Regions from separate parts of the Homo sapiens genome. Here region 1 is linked to region 2. The links come from fine-mapping of genetic effects on gene expression. A gene starts in region 2. The other region holds a variant in brackets. All regions are shown on one strand. Distances are between the middles of the regions. Region 1 has its middle 24 kb from the start of PDCD1. Region 2 holds the start of LINC03100 (long intergenic non-protein coding RNA 3100).

Region 1 (4,393 bases), 250 kb before region 2:
GAAAAGGTGATATAACACTGTTAAGACAGAGAAAAGATAAGCCACAGACTGAGAGAAAATCTTCACTGAACTCGTGCCTGATAAAGGACCAGGACCAGTGTTCAAAATAGTCAAGGTACTTTTAAAACTCAGCAATAAAAAAAAATCTGTTTAAAAAACAGGCCAAAGATCTGAAAGGACACCTTATCAAAGAAGATATATGGATGGCAAATAAGCATGTGAAAAAATACTTTGCAGGCGGAGGCAGGGGGATCACAGAGGCCAGGAGTTGGAGAGCAGCCTGGGCAACATGGTGAGACACCCTATCCCTAAAAAAAAAAATAAAATAAATAAATTATCTGGGTGTGGTGGTGCACAGCTATAGTCCCAGCTACTTGGGAGGTTGAGGCAGGAGGATTGTGTGAAACAAGGAGTTCAAGGCTGCAGTGAGCCGTGATTGCACCACTGCATTCCAGCCTGGGCAACAGCCAGACCCTGTGTCTTAAAAAAAAGGATGCTCAACACCGTATGTCATCAGGGAAATGCAAATTAAATAACACTACTGCATACCGACTGGAATGGCCCAAATCCAAAACACTGACAACACCAAGCGCTGGTGGAGACGTGGACGTTTCATTCATTTATTGCTGGTGGGAAAATGGTACTTTGGAAAAAAATTTGGCAGTTTCTTACAAAACTAAACATACTTTTATCATACGATCTAGAAATTGTGTCTCTTGGTATTTATCCAAAGGAGTTGGAGACTTATGTACCCATAAAAGCTTGCGTAGGATGAATTTATAGCAGCTTTATTCATAATGGCCAAAACGTGGAGGGAACCAAGATGTCCTTTCGTAAGTGAGTGGATAAATAGCCCGTGGTCCATCCAGACAATGGAAGATGACTCAGCACTAAATGAAATGAGCCATCGAGCCCTTCAAAAGCACGGAGGAAACTTAACTCATATTAGTAAGTGAGAGGAGCTGTGGACTTAAAAATCGCACTTTATAAATTTAGAGTTTTATTTCTTAAGAAGGAGATGACAACCTACAGGTGGAAGCCGAAGCTCCAGCTGAAAACCAAAAGTAAGCACTTTGAAAGAGGGGAGGGTGGAACGGAATTTATGCTGAATGAGCCGGACACATATGCATATTCAGCAGGTTATAGAAACATCTTATGAATAGTTATGAGAGAGTCCTACACTGCATACAATAAACGGGCATGTTATATACCACCCACGTTCACCTTGGGGTGGAGACTGCACATCTAACTGCGTTACAATCAGGCCCTGCACGTCAGAAGGTGGAGCCGGGACGGGAAGCACTCGGTGCGCAGCCTCTGTAAACCAGAACCAGTCCGGGGCTGGGGGTCCCTGCTCAGGGGACAGTTACTGAAATGCGGCTGTTGTCCGATGGCAGCTGTGGTTCTGGCTGGGGGAGCAGGGGTCAGCGAGGCAGTGTCTGGCAGGGGGTGAGCTGCACCTGCTTTAACGTTGTTCGTCTCAAGGCCAGCGTTTGGGTGTCAGAGAAAAAGAAAACTCCCGTGGCAGGTAGAACATAAATAAGTGCAGCGTGTGTGACTTCGCCCCTGCCTGGGGTGGCCTCAGGTCCCGTTGATAATGTGGCGTCTTATGGCCACAGTCGGTTCTGCCAGGCGATGTTCTCTATCTCAACACTCATGCTGGGCAGTTGCTGCGTCTAACCACACAGGGGAGGGGTGTCATGGGACGCATCTGATCTCCTGTCCCCTCAGGGCTGAGAACTCCATTTTTCAGGTTTCTCTGGGGTCCCCTTGACCAAGGGGTGAGGAGCCCGTC[G/A]GTTCAGTCAGTTGGGTGGCTTAGAATTTTATTTTTCGTCTCCATTTCCCGCTTTTGGCTGAGATTTGCCATAGGCAGCATCCACGGCCAAACCTTTATCTTGGCCCACCTTGTTGCTGGGGGAGGTGGGGCTACCTGCCCTGGTCCCTCCAGCCCTTCAGTGGAACCCTGATTGCCAAGGGGCTTACAGCTAAAAGACTTACAGCCAACTCAACGTTCTGGGCCAGGCGGAATTGGAGGTAATATAAGAGCTGAAAACCAAAAGCCAAAAGGCGAAGTGACAAAACTGGCTTATCTATAAGTTCCAAGTGTTGAGCTATCATAATTTTGGTCTCAGTCTCTGACTTGTAGCAATTAGCTACACGAAACGTAAGCATTTTGTTAAAACCATTTCAGCTAAGGAATTTAGAGACTTTGATATGCTGCTGTGCTTTTTGTGGTCTTTTTAGTAATTTGTCCTAAGGCGGCCAATACCGTTTTAATTGTATCTCTATTTGTATAAATCCCATAACTGGGAACAGCTGTATTCTGGAGGCTGTGTCACTAGGTGTCATTACATCCTCTTGGTAATTAAGTCTATGGGAAGCAGGAAATTCTTTAGAGGGTTAGAGTTGGAGGGATGGAGAGGGAACCACCTAATGGCCCAGGAGGCACAGTCCCTTGATTTGTCAGCAGTGCAGGCATCTATGCACTGTCCTTGATTTGGAGGGTCTGAGCTAGTTTTTTTTTTTTTTTTTTTTTTTTTTTTTTTTTTTTTTGAGATGGAGTCTCACTCTGTCACCCAGGCTGGAGTGCAGTGGCATGATCTCGGCTCACTGCAACCTCTGCCTCCCGGGTTCAAGCCATTCTCCTGCGTCAGCCTCCAGAGTAGCTGGGATTACAAGCGCGTGCCACCATGTGAAGCTAGTTTTTGTATTTTTAGTAGAGACGGGTTTCACCATGTCGGCCAGGCTGGTCTCGAACTCCTGACCTTGGATGATCCGCCTGCCTTGGCCTCCCAAAGTGGTGGGATTACAGGCATGAGCCACCGCACCCAGCCTGAACTAGTTTTATCCTTTGAAGCCAGCCCTTACCATCTCACGCCCCCTTCTCTTCCTCAGCAGTCCCTGGGCCTAGACAGAGGGTGCTTGATATGGTATAGCTTCAGCAACAGCTCCAGGAGACTTTGAATGAGAGAGATTTGAGAGATAAATGGCATTAATAATTTGAGTGGTAGAATTATAACGTACAGGCATAATGTGTCTGGAGTTGGTTCCTTTGGTGGTTTCGTGGTCTCGCTGACTTCAAGAATGAAGCCACGGACTTTTGCAGTGAGTGTTACAGCTCTCAAAGATGGCACACATCCAAAGGGTGAGCAGTAGCAAGGTTTATTGTGAAGAGCAAGAGAACAAAGCTTCCACACCATGGAAGGGGACCTGAGCAGGTTGTTGCTGCTGGCTGGGGTGGCCAGCTTTTATTCCCTATTTGTCCCCTCCCATGTTCCATTTTTGTCCCATCAGAGTGCCCTTTTTTCAATCCTCCCTGTGATTGGCTACTTTTAGGATCCTGCTGATTGGTGCATTTTACAGAGTGCAGATTGGTGTATTTTACAGAGCGCTGATTGGTGCATTTTACAATCCTCTTGCTAGCTACAGAGCGCTGATTGGTGCATTTTTACAGAGCGCTGATTGATGTGTTTTACGATCCCCTTGCTAGCTACAGAGCTCTGACTGGTGCGTTTTACAATCCTAGCTACAGAGCTCTGATTGGTGCGTTTTACAATCCTCTTGTAAGACAGAAAATTTCTGCAAGTCCCCACGCCACCCAGGAAGTCCAGCTGGCTTTGCCTCTCAACAAGAATTTATGCGCCCCTAACAGGAAGAAAGGAATCAACCCCATTAGGGAGCCAACTAAAACGATCATGAAGAAAATTACAACCTGGATCCTCTTTAGAGATGTGTAGCCAAGAGATAATTCAAGACTCAGTTTGAATTATAGGCAAAAAATAAAACTCAAGAACAGTGGTCGGGGCTGGAATTGCAGAACAAGTGTTTTCTTTTGAAACGTAATTTTTTTCATCTCTTTAGTTCCCCCTTTCTACCACAGAGAAATAATAATAAGACCAATTTGTGTACAAAATAAGTTTTAGTCTTATTCTATTTGGCTTGATCATTTGTGTAAATTGCAGCAGGAATAGCAGCTGGCCGTGTAGGCTCTTTTTAAATTGGCTTTGCTGGAACTTTATCGGAAAGTGTTATTTCAGTCAAAGGTCTTGTTAAAATAATATCCCCAAAGTGTCCTGTTACAAAAGAAAATGTATTCTTATTGAACTTATGCAAACCACCATATTGCTGTAAGTAAGAATGCTCATGAATAGTTTTTGAATTCTGGAGGTAGAAGGTAGAGAGAGAAAGCTGAACTTTGTTATTTTACTCAGTTTCTGTCACCTATAAATAGGTTAAAAGAAAAAAGGTTTTCTTGACTTTGGAAAACAAAACAAAGAATCAGTAACACTTTAAATACAAAGGCAATAAGCGCTGTTCAGTTCTGATAAGAACAGGAAAAGGAAGCTCACAGGTAGCTAAACATCTAAAGTATATAGTACTAAGACATAGAGCA
Region 2 (4,393 bases):
GACTCTGATGTTACTCTGTGGGTTCCTGCTATTTCTCTGTGTGTCCTGCTGTTACTCTCTGGGCTCTTGTGTTACTCTGTGGGTTCCGACATTACTCTGTGGGCTCTGCTGTTACTCTGTGGGTTCTGACGTTACTTTGTGGGCTCTGCTGTTACTCTGTGGGCTCTGATGTTACACTGTGGGTTCTGCTGTTACTCTGTGAATTCCTGCTGTTACTCTGTGGATCTCTCTGTGGTTACTCTCTGAATTCCTGCTCTTATTCTGTGGACTTCTTTTGTTGCTTTGTGAGTTTCTGCAGTTAGTTTACCTCTTTACCATCCAGCCAGGAATTCTTTCACTAGGAATTGTGTGGATGCTGGCCAATTGGGCTAAATTTAATATTACTATGTCCCCTATTGTGGTGGTGGGGTCTTGGCTTGGCAATTTCTACTAGTATTCCATATGCAGTTAATCTTGACACATCAGTGAAAGAAAAATAAAATCTCAGGCCTCCAAACTTACTATGCCAAAGGGAAAAGTTAATATTGGCAACACACACACACACACGCACACACACACACACACACACATACATGCCTTCTTTTTGTTCCCAAAAGCTTACTTTATCTTATGTGAAATGTAGATCTACTGAGTATGAGACAGATGTATAACCCTCCCCCATACCTTTCTTTTCACATGTGAAATGTAGATTTGCTGTACTCTAATCAGAGCCTCACAAAAATGTGACCACTTGCCTCATAGCCTACTCTCCCCTCTTTCCCCTCCTACCGGCGCTTTTCCCTTAAATATTTGGAAAAAAGTACAGGCCAAAAATCCTACTGTAACCTGTGTTTCTTTTTCCCCAGGCAAATCCACAATTTTGGCAAAATAAACCTCTATATCAGTTGTGATCTGCCTCAGACACTTTTTGGTTTACACAACAATCCAATCATAGCGATTTATTTGGAAATATACCTTCACAAGTTAAATCAAACCACAGCACTACTGGGCATTATTTGTAATGGCAAACTATTGCAAACAATCTAAAGCCCATCATAGACATCATAGAAACTATTCTAATAAATTGATACATTTATATAATGGAATAATCCGCAACCTTGAAGGGAATGAAGGAAGGAATAAAGAGAGAGGGTAAGGAAGAAAAGAAAGGAGAGAGGGAAGGAGGGACAGACAGGTGTTTAAATTGGGGATGTGCAAGCAATATTGCCTGCTTCATTGCCTTCACATTATCTAAAAGCATGTGGTCAAGAAACACTATTACAATAAGCACATCAGAAATAACTTCTAAAATTACTTTTCCAAAATATGAATCCATACTATACACTTCCTGTAATGTGCACCAAATGTAGATGCACACATTTTAACAAGGAAAAGACTAATACTCATATTTGCTTGCTACACACCAGACACTGTTTTAAATGTTTTGCACACGTTAACTCATCTGTTCTTACAGAAATCCTGTAGCGTGCACCGCCACCTCCATGTTTCTAGGAGGAAACTGAGGCACGGGGGCTGCGGCTCCTGGACGCACCTGGCCTTCTCGGCCTGCCTCTCTCCCTCCAGCCGCCCCACATTCTTTTTTCCTAATTGGAAAAAACTATTCACGCTGCTCCTCCAGGGCATTTCAACCTTCTAGAAAGACTCGACAAGATTCGAAACTGTTTATAAAGAGAACGTGCTTGTGCCTGAATGCTGAGTGTGAGCGCGCAGTGATGCCCTAGAGTGCAGTCATCCCGGGCTTGGCGCCCAGCGGGTGGAAATACGGCCGCAGGGTGGAAATGCGGCGGCGGGGCTGCCCAGGCTCCTGTGGGACCCGCGCGGCGCGGGCACGCACATTCTCAGGGACGCGCGTCCTCAGGCCACGAGAACACCTGAAGGCCCCGGCCAGCGTCCTCCAGTGAAGACCCGGACCGGCGTCGTCACCCGCCGCGCAGGCCTAAATCTCAGGTCTTCACCGTCATCTCCCAGCGATCGCAGGGATCTCAGGCACTGACCGCGCCCGTCCCTGCGCCCCCCCGCCCCCGCCCCCCCGCGCCCCCGCGCCCCCGCGCCCCCGCGCCCCCACACCTCCACGCCCGGCACTCTGGGCGCGCGCGGACGGCGGGGCAGTGCCTACTACGCAGGCGCACGCTGCGGGCGTCAGGACCCGGCAGCAACACTGCCACGCGAATCCGCGCCGGCCAATCAGCATGGCCAGGGGCGGGGCTTCCCTGAGGCGCGCCGAGAGGCGGTGGCCCACTTCCGGCAATAATCGCCTGGTCGCCGTCAGGTGCCGGCCCAGGTGGCAGGCGCGCCCGTTGGGCACTGGGGGACGCGGGCGCGTCAGGTGAAGACTGGGGGCTGCAGGCGCGCTAGGTAGGTACGGGGTGCCGCGGGCGCGTCAGGTGAAGACTGGGCGCCGCAGGCGCCTTAGGTGAAGATTGGGGATCGCGGGCGCGTCAGGTGGGGACGATGGGCCACGGGCGAGTCAGGTGAAGACCGGGGGCGGCGGGCGCGTCAGGGGAAGACATGGGGTCGCGGGCGCGTCAGGTGGGGACCGGGGGTCTCGGGCGCGTCAGGTGGGGACGGGGTTGTCGCGGGCGCGTCAGGTGGGGACGGGGTTGTCGCGGGCGCGTCAGATGGGGACGGGATTGCCGCGTGCGCGTCTGCTGAGGTCTGGGTCCGCGGGCGCGTCAGGAAGGGACGATGGGCCGCGGGCGCGTCAGGTGGGGTCTGGGGGCGGCCGGCGGGTGTGGAGGGTTCATTCAGGGAGCTGCGGGCGAGTCAGGTGGGCACGGGGACCGCCCACAGGTGCATCGCGTGTCCTCAGCCGCTTCCCCTGCCCACCTTCTGCGACCCCTTCCCGCCCCCACCCTCCTGGGCCGTCTTGCAGGCCCGAGCTTGTGTCCGCCTCGCTGGGCAAGGTGTTTCGGGGACGACTCCTGCCGGCGTTTGCCCTCCGGGCTCGGCCCTTGCCTCTTCGCCGGTGGGCACCTGCTAGGTGTGACCCCTCATTCCTCCAGGCCACTCTGCCCCGTCTGCTGCTTACCTTTTTTTCCCTACTCCTGGTCTGTGGCTCTGGCTCTGTCTCTGTCTCCTCCCTTAATTTCTTTCCATGCTTATTTTTCTTGCAGCAGACACTAATTTTGCATCCTTCCCCTCACAGTAAGCTCAATTTGACCTTTTTCTCAATTAGATTCCACCTCTGTCCTTGGGTCTATTCAAACTCATTTTGAAGACTAAAGAATCTAGAGAACCATTTCTTCCCTTATGAAGCTGTCTCTTGCTGCCTCCAAATCCTTACCATCCGGCCCTAATCAAAAAAGACGTTTACTCTTTCATATTCTGTTTTCTCCTCGTCTTTACATGTTTACCTTTCCCATGAGGAATCTGTGATTATCTGTAAGTCCTTACAGTAAATCTTATTTCTGACTCTCAGCCCTCAGTGTGCCATTTTTTTAAATGTCCTTTCTGGATCAAATTTGTCCACACTTTTAAGCAAAACAAATAGGGAAACACATGTGGTCTTTTAAAATGGATTAGAGTTTTCTTTCCTGTCTTGTTTTCCTTGTTTTAGTGCCTTTATATTTAGATTCATCATTACTTGAAATCATATTAGTGATCTGTAATAGACGGTAAAAAAAAAAGTTAAAAGGCTTATAATTTAATGGCATCTGTTTTAATAGGGTTTTCAGGAACTGCTATTATAAACATAGTGGGTAGGAGCATGGATCCCGGAGTGAGACTCCATCATTTTGAATCCCAGCTCCACTGAACTCTTTGCCTCAGTGTCTTCATCTATAAAATAGATAATGAAACTTGTAAAACAAGAATAATGTTTTCTATCTTGGAGGACAGCATGAGGATTAAATGAGACAACATATGTAGATTGTTTAGAGTAATGCATAGCCTATAGTAAGCTCTAATAAATGTTTGCCATTATTATTGTAAAGAAAAAATATGCTTGTTGAAGGAAAGACTTTTTTTTTGTTCTGAGTCTCTCATGCCAAGAGTTTCCACCAGCAAATGAACTTCATGAAGTCATTTTCTACTGAAGTACCCCACCCACATGTCCTACCACATGAAATAGAAATTAAGGGAAGATTTAAAATAGTTAATCATTGTAGGCTGTCTGAAATAAGTTGGCATAAAATGTGCTTAAAATTTGCAAATTATACAAGCTACACCCTTTGAGTGCTTGCTCTTAAAAGTTTAATAATTTTCAGGAGTAATTTCTAGTTTTTTTTTGTATTTGCAAATCCCAAAATAAAGGTAATTTTAATTAAAATAAGCGTACAAAGCTCTAGCAATTCACATTTTTTTAGCTGAACAAATACATTCCCATTAAAAGCCGTGGGTTGTCATCATTCTATAAAACTTTAGTAGCATTGTTTTCTGATTTACAAACTCAGAA

The links. PIP is the estimated chance that this variant, and not a neighbour inherited with it, causes the effect. A credible set is the group of variants that fine-mapping cannot tell apart.
Region 1: its variant is the best candidate, but not a certain one, in a credible set for the expression of LINC03100 in whole blood (INTERVAL, PIP 0.88).

The regions. Positions count from the first base shown.
Region 1 is chr2:241,832,708-241,837,100 of GRCh38, forward strand. No RefSeq gene overlaps it. Among named protein-coding and RNA genes, the nearest start is that of PDCD1, 24 kb to the right of the region's middle. RefSeq lists an enhancer at 1,505-2,005. The variant G/A (reference allele first, on the strand shown) is at 1,796.
Region 2 is chr2:242,086,447-242,090,839 of GRCh38, forward strand. LINC03100 (long intergenic non-protein coding RNA 3100) reads right to left here and starts at 2,119. Exons shown (of 1, transcript NR_186294.1): 1 at 905-2,119. It overlaps LINC01881 (long intergenic non-protein coding RNA 1881), which reads left to right and starts at 2,187. Exons shown (of 7, transcript NR_130702.1): 1 at 2,187-2,355.